3 linked regions of the Homo sapiens genome follow. The protein of the gene in region 1 purifies or fractionates together with the protein of each later gene. This does not show direct contact. Each region holds a gene or a part of one and is shown in the gene's direction. Other genes may lie near its edges.

What was found.
Region 2: the proteins of NIFK (region 1) and DDX24 purify together in Homo sapiens (affinity purification with mass spectrometry; 5 studies listed by BioGRID and IntAct, with this or other methods). This does not show direct contact.
Region 3: the proteins of NIFK (region 1) and RRS1 purify together in Homo sapiens (affinity purification with mass spectrometry; 5 studies listed by BioGRID and IntAct, with this or other methods). This does not show direct contact.

The regions. Positions count from the first base shown.
Region 1 is NC_000002.12:121,734,854-121,738,798, reverse strand, and holds the start of NIFK (MKI67 FHA domain-interacting nucleolar phosphoprotein), read left to right. Parts: upstream 1-1,923; 5' UTR 1,924-1,948; coding exon 1,949-2,053; intron 2,054-3,048; coding exon 3,049-3,186; intron 3,187-3,945.
Region 2 is NC_000014.9:94,079,147-94,082,746, reverse strand, and holds the start of DDX24 (ATP-dependent RNA helicase DDX24), read left to right. Parts: upstream 1-1,544; 5' UTR 1,545-1,628; intron 1,629-2,999; 5' UTR 3,000-3,004; coding exon 3,005-3,600. UniProt on the Homo sapiens protein: ATP-dependent RNA helicase that plays a role in various aspects of RNA metabolism including pre-mRNA splicing and is thereby involved in different biological processes such as cell cycle regulation or innate immunity.
Region 3 is NC_000008.11:66,427,126-66,430,725, forward strand, and holds the start of RRS1 (ribosome biogenesis regulatory protein homolog), read left to right. Parts: upstream 1-1,888; 5' UTR 1,889-2,006; coding exon 2,007-3,104; 3' UTR 3,105-3,600. UniProt on the Homo sapiens protein: Involved in ribosomal large subunit assembly. May regulate the localization of the 5S RNP/5S ribonucleoprotein particle to the nucleolus.

The DNA.
Region 1 (3,945 bases):
GGTGAAGGAGGCGAAGACTGTGAGCGTGGGAGGCACGTCTGTCAGAGGAAGTGGGCTGGCCTCGCTTGGCACTCCCTCCCAGGGCCTCCACCTCAGGCCCACAGGCCACTCTTCGGGCACACACACCCTGGGCCGCCTTCACGGCTTCCAGAACACGGCCGCAGCTATCCCCTGACACCAGCTGTGCTTGATCTGTCGCTCTCGCCTCACCTCCCTGCTTCCTCGGCAATCCACTCCCCACCCTTCCTCTCCACTCAGTTACTCACTAGTATAATAGTATTTGAAAGGTACAAACAGGCCGGGTGCGGTGGCTCACGCCTGTAATCCCAGCACTTTGGGAGGCCGAGGCGGGTAGATCACTTAAGGTCAGGGGTTCTCGACCAGCCTGGCCAAAATGGCGAAACCTCGTTTCTACTAAAAATACAAAAATTAGCCGGGAGTAGTGGTGTGCACCTGTAGTCCCAGCTAGTCGGGAGGCTGAGGAAGGAGAATTGCTTGAACCCAGGAGGCGGAGGTTGCAGTGAGTGAGCCAAAATCGCGCCACTGCACTCCAGCCTGGACGACAGAACGAGACTCCGTCTCAAAAAAAAAAAAAGAAAAGAAAGATGCAAACAGCCACAGCCTCGCTTTAAACCCGCCCATCCCCTCGCATTTACAAAACCCCAGTTTCATACTTTGACACACAGTCATGGGGCTCCAGCCTGCCGCCTCGCAGCTCTTCCCTCCTGTGCTGGGCTCCAACCCCACTGCCGCGTCCTTCTTTCTAGACCTAGGAACACTGTGCAGGCCTGTCCGGTCCAGCGGACGGCAGGCGCTCGGTTCTCCACACCCCGCTCTTTAGCCTTCAGGCCTCGGTGCTAACGCCACCTCCTAAGGGGGACCCTCCGGCGCCACCCAGTGTGCCTCTCCCCCACAAGCCTCTTTGGTCTCTTAAAGCAGCCATGCTGCCCTCAGGCTGTAAGTTCTCCAAGGGCCGCGGACGGACGGGGCCACACAGGAGAGCTCACACACAAGTGAGTGAAAGAATAACCAAATTAGGGCCGGGCGCGGTGGCTCACGCCTGTTATCCCAGTACTTTGGGAGGCTGAGGCGGGTGGATCACCTGAGGTCAGGAGTTCGAGACCAGCCTGGCCAACATGGTGAAACCCCGTTTCTACTAAACATACAAATTAAGCTGGGAGTGGTAACGTACAAATTAAGCTGGGAGTGGTGGCGGGCGCCTGTAATCAGCTACTCGGAAGACTGAGGCAGGAGAATCGCTTGAACCCGGGAGGCGGAAGTTGGAAGTTGCAGTGAGCCGAGATTGCGCCATTGCACTCCAGCCTGGGCAACCAAAGCGAAACTCTGTCTCAAAAAAAAATAATAATAATAATAAGCAAATTGAGGAATGAGAGCAGCATCTCAAGGACACAGGTACTGTTTTGGAATTTATTTTAGACCTTTTTTGAAAGTAGGCGTGAACGTAATTGTTTCAGGCACTCTTAAGCGAAGCCAGCCGGCGCCCCGACAGCCGAGGGTGCGGGAGCTCCCCACGGCCCAGCCCCAGCCCCAGACCCCGCTGCCGCGCCTCGGCACGCCCCTGCGCCCCGCCTCCGCGCCTCGGCGCTACTCACGCCCCGCCCTCCGCTCCTCGTCACGCCCCATGTCGCGCCTCCGCGCGACTCACGCCTCTCCCAGTCTCTCGGCACGACCTCGTGCCCCGCCCTCGCCCCTGGCGCAATTTATGCCCCGCCCCGCGCCTCGCCACACCCCGTGCCCCGCCCCCGCTTCTCCGGGCAACTCCTGCTCCAACCCCGCGCCCGACTCATGGCCCTCCCCGCCCCTCGCCACGCCTCGCCTCGCCTTAGCGCTTCGCCCCGCCCCTGTCCTGCCTCTACTTCCGCCTCGGGGGAGCTGGGAGCCCGACGTTTCCGGGAGCGCCGCGTGGTTAGCGTCGGCGGCTTTTGGCATGGCGACTTTTTCTGGCCCGGCTGGGCCAATCCTGTCGCTTAATCCGCAGGAAGATGTCGAGTTTCAAAAGGAGGTGGCGCAGGTTCGCAAGCGCATAACCCAGGTGAGCAGGCACCCTGGCCCAGGCTGCGAGCGGGGGCGATGGACCGGGTCTAGAGGGTATCTGGGGTTGCACGGTTTCCGGCCCGGGCGCCCCTTGCCTTCGTGCTCGCCTTCATTACCTCCAGGGTCTCCCAAGTGGATTCGACCGAATCAGGGACCGACCTCTTAAGCTTGCAGGCCACGGTTTCCGAGACGAAAGGGTTTACGCTGTTCGGTAAATGATGGAGGGGTTTGGCCGCTGAGGCCCTGGAGCCTTCATGTGGAGGGTAACGGGGAAGTATTGGGGTGACAGAAGCAGTAGAAAGAACCAGCTGGAGGGAATAGGCTCCTATACCACAGGTTATCTCCGGGTTAGAGCTGTCACGCTTCCGCGTTTCCCCCAAAAATGGGAGCCCCAGACTTAACACATTCGGGAAGTTTGTATGCCGGGTTGGTGATCTGGGAGTTATTAAAATAGAGTATTTGCCAGGTTCCACTTGCTGACTAGGGCCCCTGACATCGCTTATACTTTCTGTGGTTTTTAGCATAAAATACACAGGAAAACTTAGAAGTTCCTGTTACAGAGGTAAGGCTATGATGACTGAGACGTTGAAAGGCTAATCTGTACCGTGAGAGTTAACAAGCGTATCGAAAATTTTTCGATGAAGTGCGAGTAAACAGTAATATGCATACCAAATTGAAGCCTACGTTTATGTAGAGTTCTCTGGGCAGAAGATCTAAAATGGCTTGTTCAAAGATGTCCTTGCTTATCCGTTGATTGACATAGTTATTGAGCTCTAATATTATACTGGGTGCTGGGATGCCAGGCTGGAAAGATAGTTGACTACTGCTTGACCATGGCCTTTGTGGGGAGAGAAACACTAAACAGCCAGTTCTTTAATTACTACTGTGGTAAGTGGAAATGCAGAATAGGTTCTTGGGCCGAGGGCTAGGGGTTTTGTTACAATGTGATTTTCTTATTTATATATTTAATTTACCTGGTCTTTACGTCTTTAGCGAAAAAAACAAGAACAACTTACTCCTGGAGTAGTCTATGTGCGCCACCTACCTAACCTACTTGACGAAACCCAGATCTTTTCATATTTCTCCCAGTTTGGCACTGTGACACGGTTCAGGCTGTCCAGAAGTAAAAGGGTAAGATTTTTGCAGTTGGATTTAATGTTTTGTTTTTCAAATGTGTATTATCCTTGACATTAAAGAGCACGTTCACGCATACATTATTGCTTATCAGATTTCATTCCAAAAAGGAGAGTGGAGGAGGTTTAGAATCTGAAACAGCTACAGGAGCAAAATCAGTATTATTGTAAAAGTTTGTTTTTTACATTTCTCCAAATCCTTACATTAAATTGACAGTCCTGGTAAATGAGCTTTAGTATGAGGCCCAGGTTTATACATTTTCTTGTGTTAGCCTTTGGTACAAGCATCCTTATAATAGCAAAGGTTTATATAGTGAATAGTTAAAGGTGAGGACTCTGGAGTTGGACTGCTGAGGTTTGGGGTCAGGCTCTACACCTTACTAGTTAGAGTGATATGACCTTACCATGTTTCAGTGTTGTGATCTGTTAAATATAAGTAAAACTTCCTGGGAGTATTTAGTCAAAGGTTAAATATAAAGTCTTTAGAGGATTGCTTGGTACACAATAAACACTATATAAGTATAATTACTATTTGTGTCATACCTGCCTTCTAATGAGAAAACGCTTTACATAGCTTGTTTCAATAGTGGAGGAGTGACCCACTTTCTTTTCTTTCCCCGCACATAAACTTTAATTGGTTGTAGCCATAGACACCTATTTGATTTAGCATGTGGGGGATAGGGTGCACATCCATCATCTGTTAGTTGTCGTAAAGATAGATTGTAGGTAGAATTGAGGTCCCTTTTGTACCCTTCCC
Region 2 (3,600 bases), on another chromosome or scaffold:
CAGTGGGCTTAAAATATTCAGTAAACCATGCTATGAACAGTTGTGCTGTCATCCAGGCTTTGTTGTTCTACTTACAGAGCACAGGCAGATTATATTTAGCGTAATTCTTAAGAGACCTAAGATTTTTATAATAGAATGGTAAACAAGCACTGGCTTCAATCCAAAGTCACTAGCTGCATTAGCCTCTAACAAAAGAGTGAGCTTGGCCTTTGAGGCCAGACATTGACCTCTCTAGCTATGAAAGTCCTTGATGGCGTCTTCTTCCAATAGAAGGCTGTTTTGTCTACATTGACTACTTGCTGTTCAGTGGCCACCTTCATCAACGATCTTACCTAGATCTTGGGGATAACTTGCTGCAGCTTCTCCATCAGCATTTGCTGCCTCATCTTACACTTTCATGTTCTGGAGACGGCTTCTTTCCTTAAACCTCATGAAATAATCTCTTCTAGCTTCAAACTTCTATAGCTTCCTCACCTCTCTCAGTCATCATAGAATAGAAGAGAATCAGGGCCTTGCTTTGGATTCGGTTTTGGGTTTAGGGGATGCTGTAGCCGGTTTTATTTTCTATCCAAACCACTAAAATTTTCTCCAAATCAGCAATAAACTGTTTCGCTTTCATATCATTCATGTGTTCATTAGAGTAAAATGTTTAATTTCCTTCAGTAACTTTTCCTTTGCATTCACAAACTGGCTAACTTTTTGGTGCAAACTTTCAGCCTAGCTTTCAGCCTATCTTGCCTTTTGACATCCCTTCCTCACTAAGCTTAACCATTTCTAGCTTTTGAGTTAAAGTGAGAGATGTGCGACTCTTTCTTTCACTTGAACACTTAGAGGCCCATTGTAGGGTTATTAATTGACCTAATTTCAACACTGTTGTGTCTCAGGGAATAGAGACCCAAGGAAAGGGAGAGAGAAGGAAGAACGGCCTGTCAGTGGATTAGTCTGAACACACACAACATTTATCAATTACGTTTGTATCTTATATGGGCACAGCTCATGGCGCCCCAAAACAATTACAATACAAGGAACACTCATCACACGTCACCCTTGTAGCAGAGCACATCTCCCTATGATCTAGGTACGAGCATTGTACCTAGGATGGACGCGTTCGTCCTCTTACCTTCGGGAACGCCCTACTCTGTCTACGGAGTAAAGTACTTAATAAACTTGCTTTTGCTTTGCTATGCGGACTCACCCTGAATTCTTTCCTGTGCAAGATCCAAGAACCCTCTCTTGGGGTCTGGATCGAGACCCCTTTCCGGTAACGAAACTACACTAAGAATACAAGAAAACTTACGTTACTGTGCGGGAGCTGACAAAGTCTCTCGCCGGAGGGAGCACACAGAATTTCACCTTCTCCGGCCTTTTCCCAAGCTGGCAGGAGTAAAGCTGTAAGAGGAGGTGCCAGCGCCCCAAGCCAGCTCTCCCGCCGGCACTGCTGCGGTCCGCGAGGCAGCCAATCAGGTAGCTGAGTTTGCCATAGGGGCGGGACTTCCTCCCCAGCGCGCACGAGTACGTGCGTGGAGGTCCCGCCCCGGAACTGCAGTTGCTGCTGCAGCTGAGGTACAGCGGCGGTTTCTGAGGTTCTTCACTCGCGACTGACGGAGCTGCGGTGGCGTCTCCACACGGTGAGTACCAAAACGAGCGGGGTTGGAGCCGACTCTGGAGAGGGGCTGAGGCCAGGAACCCGGGTTCCTATCGCGGGTCGCTCTGGGCCGGTGGGTTCCCGGGTCCAGAGAGGGCGGCCGCCGGCCCAAGCCGTCCAACCGAGCTGCGTGCCACGGTCCCCGCGCCTTGGGCTCCTTGTCCGGTCATCAGAGCCTGACGGCCTTGGCTTCTCGGCTTCTCGGTTTCTCGGTTTCGTGCGCGCGTTCGTGCCTGAGACAAAGCGAGAGGGCCGCGCGGGACCGGCGTCACGAGGAGACAGAGGCCCTTCTACTCTGCCTGGCGCTCTCCGTGTCCTCGCCCGGTTCGCGTGGCACCCCTCGCCCTCTCCTTGTTGAACCCCGCGTGTTTCTTTGTGTTTTTTTTTGTTTGTTTTTTGTTTTTTTGCCGTGGCGCAGCGGGTCCGGCGGGCACTGTGTGCGAACGTGCTCTCCTCGCCGGGCGCCATGCTCAGCGGTTTTTTTTGACGTGCGTCACTTTTTCGTAGTGGCGTATAAGGATTCTGTGGGACAGATGTCCTCGTTTTTCCCATTGTGCAGACTGGGAAATAAGAGACTCAGAGATTAATACGTCCACCGCAGAGCCACAGCTGACAAGTGGTGGATCTGGATTTGAACCAAAGTTTACCTTGGTCTTTTTCACGGAATCTGTTATCTTTCTTGGCCTTTCTGAAAAGGAAAAACCTGGATCGAGTTCCACCCAAACGAGTTGGGCCTAAATGGCCATTAAGCCACTTAAAATATGATGAAGAAACTGGATGGGTTTTAAGACGCTTGGCAAAGGAAAGGATGGTGGAGCAGGCATTTGCTCTCTCAGGCAAGGCTTGAGAAGGAAGCAAGCGCAGTACGCTTTTAATAAAGCTCACCCCTCCTGCCCCCACAAGAAAAACCCCTGAGATTCTTACTCTGCCTTCAGAACGACTTAGGTGTGGCAGGTTTCATCCTCCGTGCTTTACATAATTTTCTTTATTTACATAAAATGTACAACTTAGATATTGTTAGGTACCCTCCCCCCTTTTTATAGATGAGAGCACTGAAGTTCAGAGAGGAGTGGGTGGCACTATCCAAGGTCACACAGGCAGTAAGTGTTGGATTTGGAATTCAAACCAGGTCTAGCTCATATGTCTTTGTTCCATCACATGTGTACCCTGTGTTCCAGGCAAAGCTGTCTGTTCTGTGGTATTCTTTGTTCTTCTCTAGGTGGGAGCAACTGTGTGATAGCCATCTTTGTATCCTCAGTTCTTTGTAGGGCCTAGTTGCTTAGAAAATATTTGTTACATCAGAACCCTCTGCTTCTCAGACACCAACCTAATAGAACATGTATCTCCTTTTCAGCAACCATGAAGTTGAAGGACACAAAATCAAGGCCAAAGCAGTCAAGCTGTGGCAAATTTCAGACAAAGGGAATCAAAGTTGTGGGAAAATGGAAGGAAGTGAAGATTGACCCAAATATGTTTGCAGATGGACAGATGGATGACTTGGTGTGCTTTGAGGAATTGACAGATTACCAGTTGGTCTCCCCTGCCAAGAATCCCTCCAGTCTCTTCTCAAAGGAAGCACCCAAGAGAAAGGCACAAGCTGTTTCAGAAGAAGAGGAGGAGGAGGAGGGAAAGTCTAGCTCACCAAAGAAAAAGATCAAGTTGAAGAAAAGTAAAAATGTAGCAACTGAAGGAACCAGTACCCAGAAAGAATTTGAAGTGAAAGATCCTGAGCTGGAGGCCCAGGGAGATGACATGGTTTGTGATGATCCGGAGGCTGGGGAGATGACATCAGAAAACCTGGTCCAAACTGCTCCAAAAAAGAAGAAAAATAAAGGGAAAAAAGGGTTGGAGCCTTCTCAGAGCACTGCTGCCAAGGTGCCCAAAAAAGCGAAGACATGGATTCCTGAAGTTCATGATCAGAAAGCAGATGTGTCAGCTTGGAAGGACCTGTTTGT
Region 3 (3,600 bases), on another chromosome or scaffold:
GGCAAATCCCAAAGGTTTAAGGCTCAAGGCAGTTAGCTAATATGGTCTTTGACCTAGCCTTGGCTACATGGGATGACTGATGTTAAAGCCTTGATGCTGAATGTTAAAGTAGGTTCAAGGGGAAAAAAAAAACAGCAAATTCTAAAATGCTTCTGGATGAGAAAGGCTAGCACAATGCTGAAACTAAACTGAGTCTATTTGCTAATTGCTATTAAGTTAATTTCATTGGTTAATTCTCCAGCATAACCCCCTCTAGGATAAACCTGGCCCCCAGTGAAAGGAAGATAAACCCTGTAAACCACGCAATCAACAGTGCCTCTGATACTCAAATGTACATCCTAGTCACCTACAGATCTTATTAAAATAAAGGTTCTGATAAATTACATCTAGAGTGAGGCCTGACGTTCTGCATTTCCAACAAGCTCCCAGGGGATATTATGCTGCTGGTATGCAGACCACACTTTAATGAGTATCAAGAGCTTGGACGACATTGCAGAGAATAGATCTACAGACTTAAAACCAGAGTTAAGATATCTCTTGTTCTTATATTCCCTAACTGCATAACTTTAGATAAGTCATTTCACCTCTCTGAGCCCTCCTTGTTTCATCTGTGAAAATAATATAGTTAATACAATAATTAATAACATAGTTAATACTAATAGCTAACACATACTGAGTTCTTACCATGTAGCAGTAACTAATGTTTTATGTTTGTCAATTTATAAATAAGGCTTAGATCAAACATCCTCTCCAAGTAATGGTGACCTGATACCTGATTGTAGGCCGTTTGACTCATACTTAACACCATGTAGCACTTACCTCCCAGAGCCTATGAAAATGAAATAATAATCGGTATTTGGCTAATTTGTACTGAGTACTCATACGCTCCAGGCCCTCGTCTAACCCTCCCTTGGACGATATTAACTCATTTATCTTATAACCACCCTAGGAAGTATTATTATCATTATCTCGCAGGCCTTAAAACGGCCTCAACAAGTAAAATTGCTGAAGGACCAACAGTGGCACAGTCAGGATTGGAACCCAGGCAGTGTAACTGCAGAGCGTGGCTTAGTTTCAGCACTGTACTAGATTAATTGAACTAGACTAGGTTCTGTAACTGCAGAATCCCGGATCTCCGAGTCAGCTAGCTCACTAGGGTCGGTGCACACCCGCGCCCACTCGGGGTGGCTTCATTGCCAGAGCCACTGACTCCCAAAACAAAACGAATCTTCTACAATTAGCTCTATGTGTATCTTTGGGATGTTATCTTTCTCGGGCCACAACTAGGAACCCTGAAAGCCGACTATGACTCCAGTGAAACTATTTGGCCCTAAGAAGGGTGATTGTCTAAACATCTTCACAACGGATTTACACTGAAATTGTAACACGCACTTGATTGGAACCCCACACCACAGGCAGTCCCAGGAATTTGTACCCGCCCCGGTCCCGGACCGCGCCCCTGGACAAACCCTCCGGCCCGCCCCTCCGGATTGAGCCCCAAGACTGTCCCCGGACCACCATCCTAAGACCACTCCCTGAACTGCCCCCCCCAAGACCGCCCCCTAGATCGCCCCCCGGGACCGCCCTCTCTAGACCGCCTGCGAGACTGTCCCCGGACCGCCCCCTGGACCACCCCCTAGGCGGCCCCCCGAGCTGTCCCTGGACCGCCCTCTAGACCGCCTCCCGCCCCCTGCATCCTGGGAATCGTAGTCCCAATCCTGCTCTGGAACTAGCAGTGCGGCCTGCTCGGGCCAGCTCCGCCTCTATCTGGCGCCAGCCTAAAGGTCCCGCTTCTAATCCCATCATCTCTCCATACCGCCCTCTGCCGGCCTTTCCTCTGGTCGCCCGGATTGCGAGCCGCTTCCGGACGCTCCGGAAGCGAACCTTTCTTTTCCGGATTGGGCATCCCGGCATCTGCACGTGGTTATGCTGCCGGAGTTTGGGCCGCCACTGTAGGAAAAGTAACTTCAGCTGCAGCCCCAAAGCGAGTGAGCCGAGCCGGAGCCATGGAGGGCCAGAGCGTGGAGGAGCTGCTCGCAAAGGCAGAGCAGGACGAGGCAGAGAAGTTGCAACGCATCACGGTGCACAAGGAGCTGGAGCTGCAGTTTGACCTGGGCAACCTGCTGGCGTCGGACCGGAACCCCCCGACCGGGCTGCGGTGCGCCGGACCCACGCCGGAGGCCGAGCTACAGGCCCTGGCGCGGGACAACACGCAACTGCTCATCAACCAGCTGTGGCAGCTGCCCACGGAGCGCGTGGAAGAGGCGATAGTGGCGCGGCTGCCGGAGCCCACCACACGCCTGCCGCGAGAGAAGCCTCTGCCCCGACCGCGGCCACTTACACGCTGGCAGCAGTTCGCGCGCCTCAAGGGCATCCGTCCCAAGAAGAAGACCAACCTGGTGTGGGACGAGGTGAGTGGCCAGTGGCGGCGGCGCTGGGGCTACCAGCGCGCCCGGGACGACACCAAAGAATGGCTGATTGAGGTGCCCGGCAATGCCGACCCCTTGGAGGACCAGTTCGCCAAGCGGATTCAGGCCAAGAAGGAAAGGGTGGCCAAGAACGAGCTGAACCGGCTGCGTAACCTGGCCCGCGCGCACAAGATGCAGCTGCCCAGCGCGGCCGGCTTGCACCCTACCGGACACCAGAGTAAGGAGGAGCTGGGCCGCGCCATGCAAGTGGCCAAGGTCTCCACCGCCTCTGTGGGGCGCTTTCAGGAGCGCCTCCCCAAGGAGAAGGTGCCCCGGGGCTCCGGCAAGAAAAGGAAGTTTCAACCCCTTTTCGGGGACTTTGCAGCCGAGAAAAAGAACCAGTTGGAGCTGCTTCGTGTCATGAACAGCAAGAAGCCTCAGCTGGATGTGACTAGGGCCACCAATAAGCAGATGAGGGAGGAGGACCAGGAGGAGGCCGCCAAGAGGAGGAAAATGAGCCAGAAGGGCAAGAGAAAGGGAGGCCGGCAGGGGCCTGGGGGCAAGAGGAAAGGGGGCCCGCCCAGCCAGGGAGGGAAGAGGAAAGGGGGCTTGGGAGGCAAGATGAATTCTGGGCCGCCTGGCTTGGGTGGCAAGAGAAAAGGAGGACAGCGCCCAGGAGGAAAGAGGAGGAAGTAATAGTTTCTAACTGTCGGACCCGTCTGTAAACCAAGGACTATGAATACTAAATGTTAAGTTCTAGGCAATTATACGGGGACTCAGAAGGACCTGGCCGCTGCCTTCATTGAGTTTAAAGGGACAGGATTGCCCTTCCGTCAAGAAAGTATGTAAGTGTTGGACTGCACAAATTAATGTTTTTCCCACAACCGAGACTTTGGAGATTAAGAACTTATTTGAGGATTTAAGAATTAGGGAAATAATTTGGTGGAAACCGGGAATGAGTTCTATTCTTAAACAGCCTTTTTTTTTCTTTTTAATGTTGGATATACGGCGAGGTAGAGTTGGCCATATTTCAGAGACTTAGATTGACGTATATGTTTCTGCATTATTTTTACAACAAGTTTGTGTATCAGAGCGGGAGTGCGGGGGAGGGAAAGAAAACAAACAGTTTCAGAATTGAATAGGCAAGTGACTGTTTTAAAGATTAAGTAATAAAGATGTCTTATCTAGTGTG